Linked DNA regions of Homo sapiens. The protein of the gene in region 3 purifies or fractionates together with the protein of the main gene of each other region. This does not show direct contact. Each region holds a gene or a part of one and is shown on either strand. Other genes may lie near its edges.

What was found.
Region 1: the proteins of SGK1 (region 3) and IARS1 purify together in Homo sapiens (affinity purification with mass spectrometry, with the first as the bait; one large-scale study listed by BioGRID). This does not show direct contact.
Region 2: the proteins of SGK1 (region 3) and FKBP5 purify together in Homo sapiens (affinity purification with mass spectrometry; 3 studies listed by BioGRID and IntAct, with this or other methods). This does not show direct contact.

What each region holds. Positions count from the first base shown.
Region 1 is NC_000009.12:92,287,084-92,290,736, reverse strand, and holds part of IARS1 (isoleucine--tRNA ligase, cytoplasmic), read left to right. Parts: intron 1-1,310; 5' UTR 1,311-1,317; coding exon 1,318-1,436; intron 1,437-2,454; coding exon 2,455-2,611; intron 2,612-2,763; coding exon of another isoform or gene 2,764-2,826; coding exon 2,827-2,946; intron 2,947-3,653. UniProt on the Homo sapiens protein: Catalyzes the specific attachment of an amino acid to its cognate tRNA in a 2 step reaction: the amino acid (AA) is first activated by ATP to form AA-AMP and then transferred to the acceptor end of the tRNA.
Region 2 is NC_000006.12:35,573,841-35,577,493, reverse strand, and holds part of FKBP5 (peptidyl-prolyl cis-trans isomerase FKBP5), read left to right. Parts: intron 1-260; coding exon 261-500; intron 501-1,551; coding exon 1,552-1,659; 3' UTR 1,660-3,653. UniProt on the Homo sapiens protein: Immunophilin protein with PPIase and co-chaperone activities. Component of unligated steroid receptors heterocomplexes through interaction with heat-shock protein 90 (HSP90).
Region 3 is NC_000006.12:134,307,961-134,311,613, forward strand, and holds part of SGK1 (serine/threonine-protein kinase Sgk1), read right to left. Parts: intron 1-3,653. UniProt on the Homo sapiens protein: Serine/threonine-protein kinase which is involved in the regulation of a wide variety of ion channels, membrane transporters, cellular enzymes, transcription factors, neuronal excitability, cell growth, proliferation, survival, migration and apoptosis.

The DNA.
Region 1 (3,653 bases), on a different chromosome or scaffold from region 3:
TGGAAACATTGTCTCTACCATTACTGAATATTAAATAATAGCCATGTACCCCTCCCTCACACCATATACGAAAATAAAATTATTTGTGGCCTAAATGTAAGCGAAAAATCTATAACCTTGTTTAGGTAATGGTTTATTGATGACACCAAAAGCTCAAGCAGCAAAACCAAAAATTGACAAATTGGGCATCATTAAAATGAAAAATCTTTGTGCTTCAAAAAATGCCATCAAGAAAATAAAAAGACGGCCCACAGAACAGGAGAAATTTTTTATAAATCATATATCTGATAAAGGATTTGTATCCAGGATGTATACATAACCCTTAAAACCCAACCACAAAAAGAGCCCAATTAGAAAATAGGCAAAGGATAAATATCTATCCAACGTGGATACGCAAATGGCCAATAAGCATGTGGAAAGATGCTCAGCATCATTAGTCCTTAGGGAAATGCAAATCAAAACCACAAGATACTACTTAACATCTCCTAGAATGACTGTAATTCAAAGATGGACAATAAGATGTGTTGGGTAAGATCTGAAGAAATTAGAATCCTCATTCACTGCTGAGGGAATGTAAAATAGTACAGTCACTTTGGAAAAATTTTGGCATTTTCTCAAAAAGTTAAATACAGAATTATCATGTGACCCAGAAATTCTACTTCTAGCTACAAACCCAAGAGAAATGAAAACATAGATCCACACAAAATTTTGTATGTGAATGTTCATAGCAGCGTTATTCGTAATAACCAAAAAGTGGAAACAATACAGGTATCCAAGAAATGATGAATGGATAAACAAAATGTGGCATATTCATGAAATGGAATACTATTCAGCTATCAAAAGTAATGAAGTATGAATACATATTACATCATGGATGAGCCTTGAAAACATGCTAGAGAAAGGAAACCAGATGCAATAGGCCACATATAGATGATTCCTATAAATTTTCCCATTTATATGAAATGTCCAGAATAGGTAAATCTGCAGGGACAGAAAGAAGATAAATCGTTGCCACTGGCTATGGAGAAGAAAGAATGGGGAGTGACTGCTAATGGTTTTGGGGTGTTTTGGTGGGGAGGGGAGGTTGAAAACGTTTTGAAATTAGGTATTACTAGTTATACTACCTTGTAAATATACTAAAAAGCCACTGAATTGTACACTTTTTACATTACACTATGTAAATTGTACATCAATAAAGCTGTAATTTTTTAAAAGTATGGATAGTGTCATGTACACCCATGTTAATAATATGGTACTCTGTTATTCCTAGATTTCTCTTTTGACAGTAATAAATTTGATTTCTTTTGCAGCAACAAAATGCTTCAACAAGTTCCAGAAAACATAAATTTTCCTGCTGAAGAAGAGAAAATCTTGGAGTTTTGGACTGAATTTAATTGTTTTCAGGAATGCTTAAAGCAATCAAAACATAAACCAAAGTATGTGAATTTTTTAGGTTAAGTTCCCTTAAGAATAGTCATTTCTTAGACTGAATTCCATTAAAGCAGATACTTTTTTTTTTTTTTTTTTTTTGAGATGGAGTCTCGCACTGTCATCCAGGCTGGAGGGCAGTGGTGCAATCTCTGCTCACTGCTACCTCTGCCTCCCGGATGCAAGTGATTCTCCTGCCTCAGCCTCCCGAGTAGCTGGGATTACAGGTGCCCGCCATCACACCAGCTAATTCTTGTGTTTTAGTAGAGACGGGGTTTCACCATGTTGCCCAGGCTGGTCTCGGACTCCTGACCTCAAGTGATCCACCCACCTCGGCCTCTCAAAGTGCTGGGATTACAAGTGTGAGCCATCACGCGCGGCCTAAAGCAGATACTCTTTATTAATCTTTCTATTCCCAGAATCCCCCAGCTCCCTATGTAGTGGGTACTCAGTAGTAGATATACATTGAATGAATGAGTTCTCAATTATTGGGGTAAATTTTGTTTCTTTAAAAGGTCATCTGAGTAAAATTTATGTGTCATCCTCCGTGTCACCCTCTTTCCACCTTTATTTTCATCACCACCCTCGTTTAGGCACTTATACCTAAGTACCCCATAGAAGGCTACTATAGTACTACCTGCCTTTAGTCCTCATTCACCTAAAAGACTAGTCCTTTAATCAGTGTTTTCATTATATGTCTCCTCTGGTCAAAAACTATGAGATAGGGGTTTATTGCCCTATTTTACTGATGAGATAACTCAAGATCAGGATAAATAATTTGCCTTATGTCATGGAACTAATAAATGAAAAATGGATAATCAAATGGAGGTCTCTGTAGCTCTACCACAATTGTAGCCTTTCTGAAGGCAGGACCACCAGTAAATATCAAATCAATTATGTCTGTCGGTTTCCTGATCTTGCTGCTTTTCTCCTTGAAGACTCCACTATGACAAGAGCTATCTATAGAAAAATGCCTTAAATTTTGGCTGTTTTTAAATGGCTTGATATATTTTTATTACCTGTTAGATTTACCTTCTATGATGGTCCTCCTTTTGCAACTGGACTGCCTCACTATGGACATATACTTGCGGGTACAATTAAAGATATAGTTACAAGATATGCTCACCAGAGTGGGTTTCATGTTGACAGAAGATTTGGATGGGATTGCCATGGCTTACCTGTGGTATGTTTGAGTATCCAGCTTTATAATTTTCTGATTTTTTTTATAAGCATTAGATTTTGTCATATAATATGTTCAAGTATGATGAACGTTGACTGTCAGACCTTCTAGTTCATTTCTATAATATTTGTAGTTTGATTTGTTTTGTTTTCTAGAGTTGCATAGTTGCAGTTGTTTTCATAGGGCAGCGTGGTAACAGTCTTATCACAAATTTTCAGGAATATGAAATTGATAAGACACTGGGAATCAGAGGACCAGAGGATGTGGCCAAAATGGGGATTACAGAGTATAACAATCAGTGCCGAGCAATTGTGATGAGATATTCTGCTGAGTGGAAGGTATGTTGGGTTTTTTTCAGTAGAATGAACAGCAAATGTAGTTACTAAATGGGCATTGAAATGGTTTATGGTCCCTTGTGCTTTTTTTATTAATTTATTTTTTGTAGAAAAAGTGTTAGCTTCCACCTTCAACCCTATTACTTAAACGGTTAGCTTAAACTGAACCATCTCTCTTCTGACTTCTGTGTGCTTAATTGGTCTAACTTTCTTGCATGATCACCAATAGGGAAAAATTCTAATAAGTATAACATGATATATAGGCCTTTTCTTTTTTTCTCAAATACTTTTTTCAATTTTTTTAACTTTTCATTTTGAAATAATTTGACTTATTAAACAATTGAAAAAGTAGTATGATGGGTTCCCCTATATCCTTCATCCATCTTTCCCAGCTGCTAACATCTTCGGTAACCATAATATTAATAGAATTTTCAAAAGCAGTTGCCCCATTAATTTTTATTTCTGACCAATCACATATTGCATTTGGTTGTCATGTCTTTTTAGTCTTCTTAAGTATGGAACATTTATTTAGTCCTTTGTATTTCATGGCCTTCTCACTTTTGAAGATTGCAGAACAGCTATTTTCTATAATGTCTCTCAATGTGTGAGGTTTCCTGATTTAATTTAGGTTATGCATTTTTGGTGACAATGCCACAGAAGTGATGCTATGCCCTTCTCAATGCATTATATCAGGTGGCATGTGTTGCGGC
Region 2 (3,653 bases), about 99 Mb from region 3:
GGGCACTTATTTGTTCCAATGAACTTTAAAATGAACTTCTCAAGAGCCCCCTCTCAAATCTCCTTGGGATCTTTCTAGAAATTGCATTAAATGCAGAAAATAATTTGGGTAGTAAATTTTGATCAGTAGTATGTAATTATCTTGAGCCCCATTTTTTTAAATACACTTTTTCCATCTCCTTTGGCAAGAGAACTTTGGTAAGCTGTTTACTGAATTTATTAAAATTCGTCCTTTCTAAAATATAGACCATCTATTCCTAGGCCCTTGGACTGGACAGTGCCAATGAGAAAGGCTTGTATAGGAGGGGTGAAGCCCAGCTGCTCATGAACGAGTTTGAGTCAGCCAAGGGTGACTTTGAGAAAGTGCTGGAAGTAAACCCCCAGAATAAGGCTGCAAGACTGCAGATCTCCATGTGCCAGAAAAAGGCCAAGGAGCACAACGAGCGGGACCGCAGGATATACGCCAACATGTTCAAGAAGTTTGCAGAGCAGGATGCCAAGGTGTGTGCAGAGCCTGATGACTGCAGGTGGATCAAGAGCCTGACCATGCCCCTTTGATTTTAGGGGACAGGAACAGCTAAACAACCCAAGAGGCTCAAGAGCAGGGAAAACGATTTCCAATCTAATCTGAGGCTGCTTTGGATCCAAAGGTCGAGTAGGGCAGTTCCAGTCACCAAAGGCACACGTCATGAGAGATGAGAAAACTAAATTCCCTTCAGATGTATTAGATTGGTTCAAAAGTAATTGTGGTTTTTACCATTACTTTCAATGGCAAAAACAGCAATTTTGCACCAACTCCCCCCGCCCGCCCCCCGGGCCCCTGCCCGAGTCAGAGTCTCACTCTGTCACCCAGACTGTAATGCAGTCGTGCTAACATGGCTCACTGCAGCCTTGACTTCTCTGGATCAAGTGATCCTCCCACCTCAGCCTCCTGAGTAGCTAGGACAAGCACACTACCACACTGGGCTAATTTTTTAAAATTTTTTGTAAAGATAGGGTTTCACTTTGTTGTCTAGGCTGGTCTCGAACCCCTGGCTTCAAGGGTTCCTCCTGCTTTGGTCTCCCAAAGTGCTGGGATTATAGACATGAGCCACCATGCCCAGCCCTTTTGTCATTTTTGAAAAATTGTAAACCCATCAGGATTTTTTTTTCAAGTAAGACTTACGATTTTCCCAGGAAATGGGATGTTATAGGAGCCCCATCATCACACCTGTTATCTTGAGGGTCGGCAGCCAGCCTGAAAAATGTGGCAGGAGAGGTCTGTCTGCAGAGAGGGCGGCCTCCCTACAGCATAGTTGGCATTCTGGTCCTGTCCCCAGTCTCCAGGAATGCCCAGACTTCATTATCCCACAGCTGTCCCATGTGTCAACCAAAGAAAGGTGAAGCTCCCACTCTAACTATTGGTAGCACAGCCCTGACCTACCCAGCTAGATATCCTAGAGAAAATCATTGCAATACCTCGTGTTTGGGACCTGATACACAGTCTGGAGGAGCCAGGAATTATTTCACTTCTTTATTCTCTAACCTTCTTGATTGCTTATTTCTTCCTTAGGAAGAGGCCAATAAAGCAATGGGCAAGAAGACTTCAGAAGGGGTCACTAATGAAAAAGGAACAGACAGTCAAGCAATGGAAGAAGAGAAACCTGAGGGCCACGTATGACGCCACGCCAAGGAGGGAAGAGTCCCAGTGAACTCGGCCCCTCCTCAATGGGCTTTCCCCCAACTCAGGACAGAACAGTGTTTAATGTAAAGTTTGTTATAGTCTATGTGATTCTGGAAGCAAATGGCAAAACCAGTAGCTTCCCAAAAACAGCCCCCCTGCTGCTGCCCGGAGGGTTCACTGAGGGGTGGCACGGGACCACTCCAGGTGGAACAAACAGAAATGACTGTGGTGTGGAGGGAGTGAGCCAGCAGCTTAAGTCCAGCTCATTTCAGTTTCTATCAACCTTCAAGTATCCAATTCAGGGTCCCTGGAGATCATCCTAACAATGTGGGGCTGTTAGGTTTTACCTTTGAACTTTCATAGCACTGCAGAAACCTTTAAAAAAAAAATGCTTCATGAATTTCTCCTTTCCTACAGTTGGGTAGGGTAGGGGAAGGAGGATAAGCTTTTGTTTTTTAAATGACTGAAGTGCTATAAATGTAGTCTGTTGCATTTTTAACCAACAGAACCCACAGTAGAGGGGTCTCATGTCTCCCCAGTTCCACAGCAGTGTCACAGACGTGAAAGCCAGAACCTCAGAGGCCACTTGCTTGCTGACTTAGCCTCCTCCCAAAGTCCCCCTCCTCAGCCAGCCTCCTTGTGAGAGTGGCTTTCTACCACACACAGCCTGTCCCTGGGGGAGTAATTCTGTCATTCCTAAAACACCCTTCAGCAATGATAATGAGCAGATGAGAGTTTCTGGATTAGCTTTTCCTATTTTCGATGAAGTTCTGAGATACTGAAATGTGAAAAGAGCAATCAGAATTGTGCTTTTTCTCCCCTCCTCTATTCCTTTTAGGGAATAATATTCAATACACAGTACTTCCTCCCAGCATTGCTACTGCTCAGCTTCTTCTTTCATTCTAATCCTTGCTATTAAGAATTTAAGACTTGTGCTTACAATATTTTTGACCTGGAGTGGATCTATTTACATAGTCATTTAGGATCCATGCAGCTTTTTTTGTCTTTTTAAGATTATTGGCTCATAAGCATATGTATACTGGTTTATGGAACTTTATTTACACTCCTCTATCATGCAAAAAAATTTTGACTTTTTAGTACTAAGCTTAATTTTTAAAAACAAAATCTGTAGGGTTGACAAATAAATAGTTGCTCTTCTACACTAGGGGTTTCACCTGCAGGTTTGACACGCAGTTGCTCGCTTTTCCTGCCCTGTCAAGCTTCTCTGTTCTGGCGTGAGTTGTGAAAGAGTTGAAGACAGCTTCCCATGCCGGTACACAGCCAGTAGCCTAAATCTCCAGTACTTGAGCTGACCATTGAACTAGGGCAAGTCTTAAATGTGTACATGTAGTTGAATTTCAGTCCTTACGGGTAAACAGATTGAGCATGGCTCTCTATTCCCTCAGCCTAAGAAACACTCATGGGAATGCATTTGGCAACCCAAGGAACCATTTGCTTAAACCTGGAACATCTCACCTTTTTAAATCCTAAAAAACACTGGCAGTTATATTTTAAATTAGTTTTTATTTTTATGATGGTTTTATCAAAAGACTTTTATTATTAGATTGGGACCCCCTTCAAACCTAAAAATCAAGTTATTTCCTTTTATAATACTTTTCTTCCCCATGGAACAAATGGGATCAATTTGTGAGTTTTTTCCTTTAATGATAACTAAAATCCCTCTAATTTCTCATTTATGCTTTTGTCTTTTTTATGAAATATTTCTTTTAAAAGCCCCAGTCTCACCTACGAAATATGAAGAGCAAAAGCTGATTTTGCTTACTTGCTAAACTGTTGGGAAAGCTCTGTAGAGCATGGTTCCAGTGAGGCCAAGATTGAAATTTGATACTAAAAAGGCCACCTAGCTTTTTGCAGATAACAAACAAGAAAGCTATTCCAAGACTCAGATGATGCCAGCTGTCTCCCACGTGTGTATTATGGTTCACCAGGGGGAACTGGCAAAAGTGTGTGTGGGGAGGGGAAGGGTGTGT
Region 3 (3,653 bases):
TGTGAACAAGGCAGACAAGGTCCTGCACCCAGCACGTGTATATTCTAGGTTTCAGAGAAGCTATGTGAGGCTGTGAAGAGGATTCTTTTTTAATGTCTTTATTTTTATACTACCCCTCCACAGCCTTACCCCAATCTTTTAAACCACACCGGAAGCTATGTACTCATCGTTTTTTTCCTGTAATTTTTTTTACAGTACAACCTAAATAAATACTGGCCCAGAAAGATTCAGAGTTCAAAGAAAATTCAGCTGCTTTCGGAAAGATCATTCTATGGGAAAGATCACATTTCTGAGTAATAAACATTATAAATACATATTCCGATTTATTTTTAATTCTCAAACTATTAACTTTCATTTTTCCCCTCTGGCATATTTTAATTTTTGTCCTACAGGGACTTGAGTCTAAATATGTTTTAACAATTTGGGGGACTTTTCTTTTTTCACCTTGCTATTTCTAGAGACTAAAATCTTTGAGCTACCAAGGTCTTTCAAACTGGCTGATGTCACTCTAACAAACTCAGAGATAGCAAGATGTTCCTTAAGCCACTGGGTTAGAACGAGAATCCTTTGTTTTCTATGGGCACAATCCTAGGAATGTTTCTTCTCTTTTTTTTGAGACAGAGTCTCTCTCTGTCACCCAGCCTGGCGTGAAGTGGTGCCCTCTCAGCTCACTGCAACCTCCACCCCCCGGGTTCAAGTGATCCTCCTGCCTCAGCCTCCTGAGTAGCTGGGATTACAGGTGCACGCCACCACACCCTGCTAATTTTTGTATTTTTAGTAGAGACAAGATTTCACCGTGTTGGCCAGGCTGGTCTCAAACTCCTGACCTCAGGTGATCCACCCGCCTCAGCCTTCCAAAGTGCTAGGATTACAGGCGTTTGCTACCGTGCCCGGCAAGCCTAGGAATATTTCACTTCATGCTTTTCTCTTTTGCCTTGCTGTGAGCTTATCCTCCAGAGACAACAGAGAGAGAGAAAGAGAGAGAGACAGGAGAGAGAAAGTGGAAGAACCACATGACCAGTCATTTCCCGAAGCAAATGGCGTTTTGGGTGAATGCCCTGACCTAGGAGGGAAAAAGAGGCCAAGGTTACCCTAATGTTACAGAAGTAGCTAAGTGAATTCTTCTCCGAAAAACGTCACAGCAGGCTCTAGAAAGCAATTAGAGTAATATTTTGGCACCTCGAACTACCAAATAGAAGATTCCTCTACTGCTCTAGTTACATCTTTGATTTTCATTTCCCTTTGTTGTAAATACTTACAATGTCATTTCAGAATGCTGCAGAGAAATAGATGTGAGAGTAAACAAACTATAATAATAATCCTTTCTCCACATGCCATGGCAGCTGCAGGAGGAGGCCAACGCAGCACCGAACTTGCCTTACTGTCTGCTTTTCCTGTCCTCCTCCTCCTGCACCTCCTTCACCTCCTCCACCTCCTTCTCCTCCACTTTCCCACATGGTCTTTTATAAATTTGCCAGCATCACTGTGCAGTTTGCCAGAGAAACCTGGCCACTTGCTGGGTAAGCCTGCTCTTAGACCAAGGACCAGGGTAGGTCACTGCTGCTGTCCTCATTTCTGGGCCAGAAGGATTCACTGAGAGTGAGGTCCAGAACCACCTGCTTTCCCATTACAGAGGATGTGGATCTCTATAGAGACACTGCGTATCCCTTCAGTTAAAGCTCTTCGAAGACTCTTTTTACCCTGCGAGCTGAACTTTCTTGAGCCCCATAGAATGGATAAAAATCTTCATCCCCAGGTTGGTGAGGAGCCAATGATTTCACGCTCAAACAAGCTGACAAGCTAGGAATCCTAGCTTTCCTTAGCAGGCAGGAAACAGCATCCCACTCATAAGTCAGGAGTCTTTTCTGCCAATGTTAGGAATGTTGATATTTACCTTTATTTTTGGACTTATTTCTAAAAAAAATTAACTAGTATGTAAAAAAAAATCACACTTTAAAAATATGCTTCTACAATATTTGCTCTAGCGAACTATCTTTAGCTTGACCTAAATTACTAATTAAACTTTTCTATTGATCCAATTCCCATTACTGTTCCTGCCTTTATGCTTTCATATTCGGAAATCTCCAACATGCATTTTGATGGCTCCACCCCCCACGTTCCTCACTCCTGCCCCCTCATTTTGGTTTTGCTTTACCTTGTTAAGCACTTACAGATCATAAAATATGGGTGAGCTCAGAATATCTCTTACTCCAGTGTTACATATGGCACCCGCATTTCAGCACCAGCCCTTTAAAAAATGGTGCAGAATTTCAAGGAACTCAGCTACACTTTCCATTCAAAATCCCTCCCAAGCACTGTAGCTAAGAGCCTATCTCAGGATTTTCTTGAGAGCTGCTGGGGAGGCAAAATATCTATCTAACGAAAATGGCTCATCATCCACATTCTGCAGTACTGAGACTAATTCCCCAGCACTGCCAAACCTAGACTGCTGAACTCCCTCATCCAAACTCTCTAAGACTTAGTGGTCAAAGTGCCAAAGGCATCCGTCTTACTCACACTCTGTGGCTCCTAAGACCATGCTGAAAAGTGAGGATAAGTAATAATTGAAAGACATTTTTAGGATTCTAGTTGGGAGGATACATAATGCAGATACTATATAGTTTTTGTTTGTTTGTTTGTTTTTTGAGATGCTGTCTCACTGTGTTATCCAGCCTGGAGTACAATGGCGTGATCTTGGCTCACTGCCACCTCCGCCTCCCAGGTTCAAGTGACTCTCCTGCCTAGGCCTCCTGAGAAGCTGGGATTACAGGTGCCCACCACCACTCCCAGCTAATTTTTGTATTTTTAGTAGAGACGGGATTTCACCATGTTGGCCAGGCTGGCCTCAAACTCCTGACCTCAGGTGATCTGCCTGCCTTGGCCTCCCAAAATGCTGGGATTAAAGGTGTGAGCCACTGTGCCCAGCCTACTATATATTACTGAAGTTAGTAATTCATATTAATGCAAAATAAAAGGAGATTAGTGAATCACTGCTACGTCTGTCTTGTTTGGCCTGACAAGAAAAGTATCATAGAAGAGAAGGTGTGTTATGGGCATTGGATCAGCAAATAAGCTGAGGTCAAGCTTCCCTAAGTACCCACCAGCTCTGAAGGGGAAGTGACAGCTTGTCTTTGAGCCAGATTTAGGTTACATTTCAGTCTTAATTTATATCTAATCCATATCTAAACATAGAGAGAAATAAAATGCATTAGATTTCTGAGCCACCAAAGCCTGTTTAAAGGAAGACGGAGGAGGAAGGAGAAGAGGGCAATGACTTAGGGGCAAGTAATAGAAGGATTTGTTCTTTTATTTTATGCATTCTTTTATTCAACAAATATGTTTTGACAAGTAGGGGATACAGTGAACAAGGTAACTGGTTTTCTGTCCTTAAAGACCTTCCAGCCAGTTGTGGTGGCTCATGCTTGTAATCCCAGCACTTTGGGAGGCCAAGGCTTGTGGATCACCTGAGGTCAGGAGTTGGAAACCAGCCTGGCCAACATGGTGAAACCCTGTCTCTACTAAAAAAAAAAATACAAAAAAATTAGCTGTGCATGGTGGTGCACACCTGTAATCCCTGCTACTCAGGAGGCTGAGGCAGGAGAATTGCTTGAACCTAGGAGCCAGAGGTTGCAGTGAGATGAGATGGTGCCACT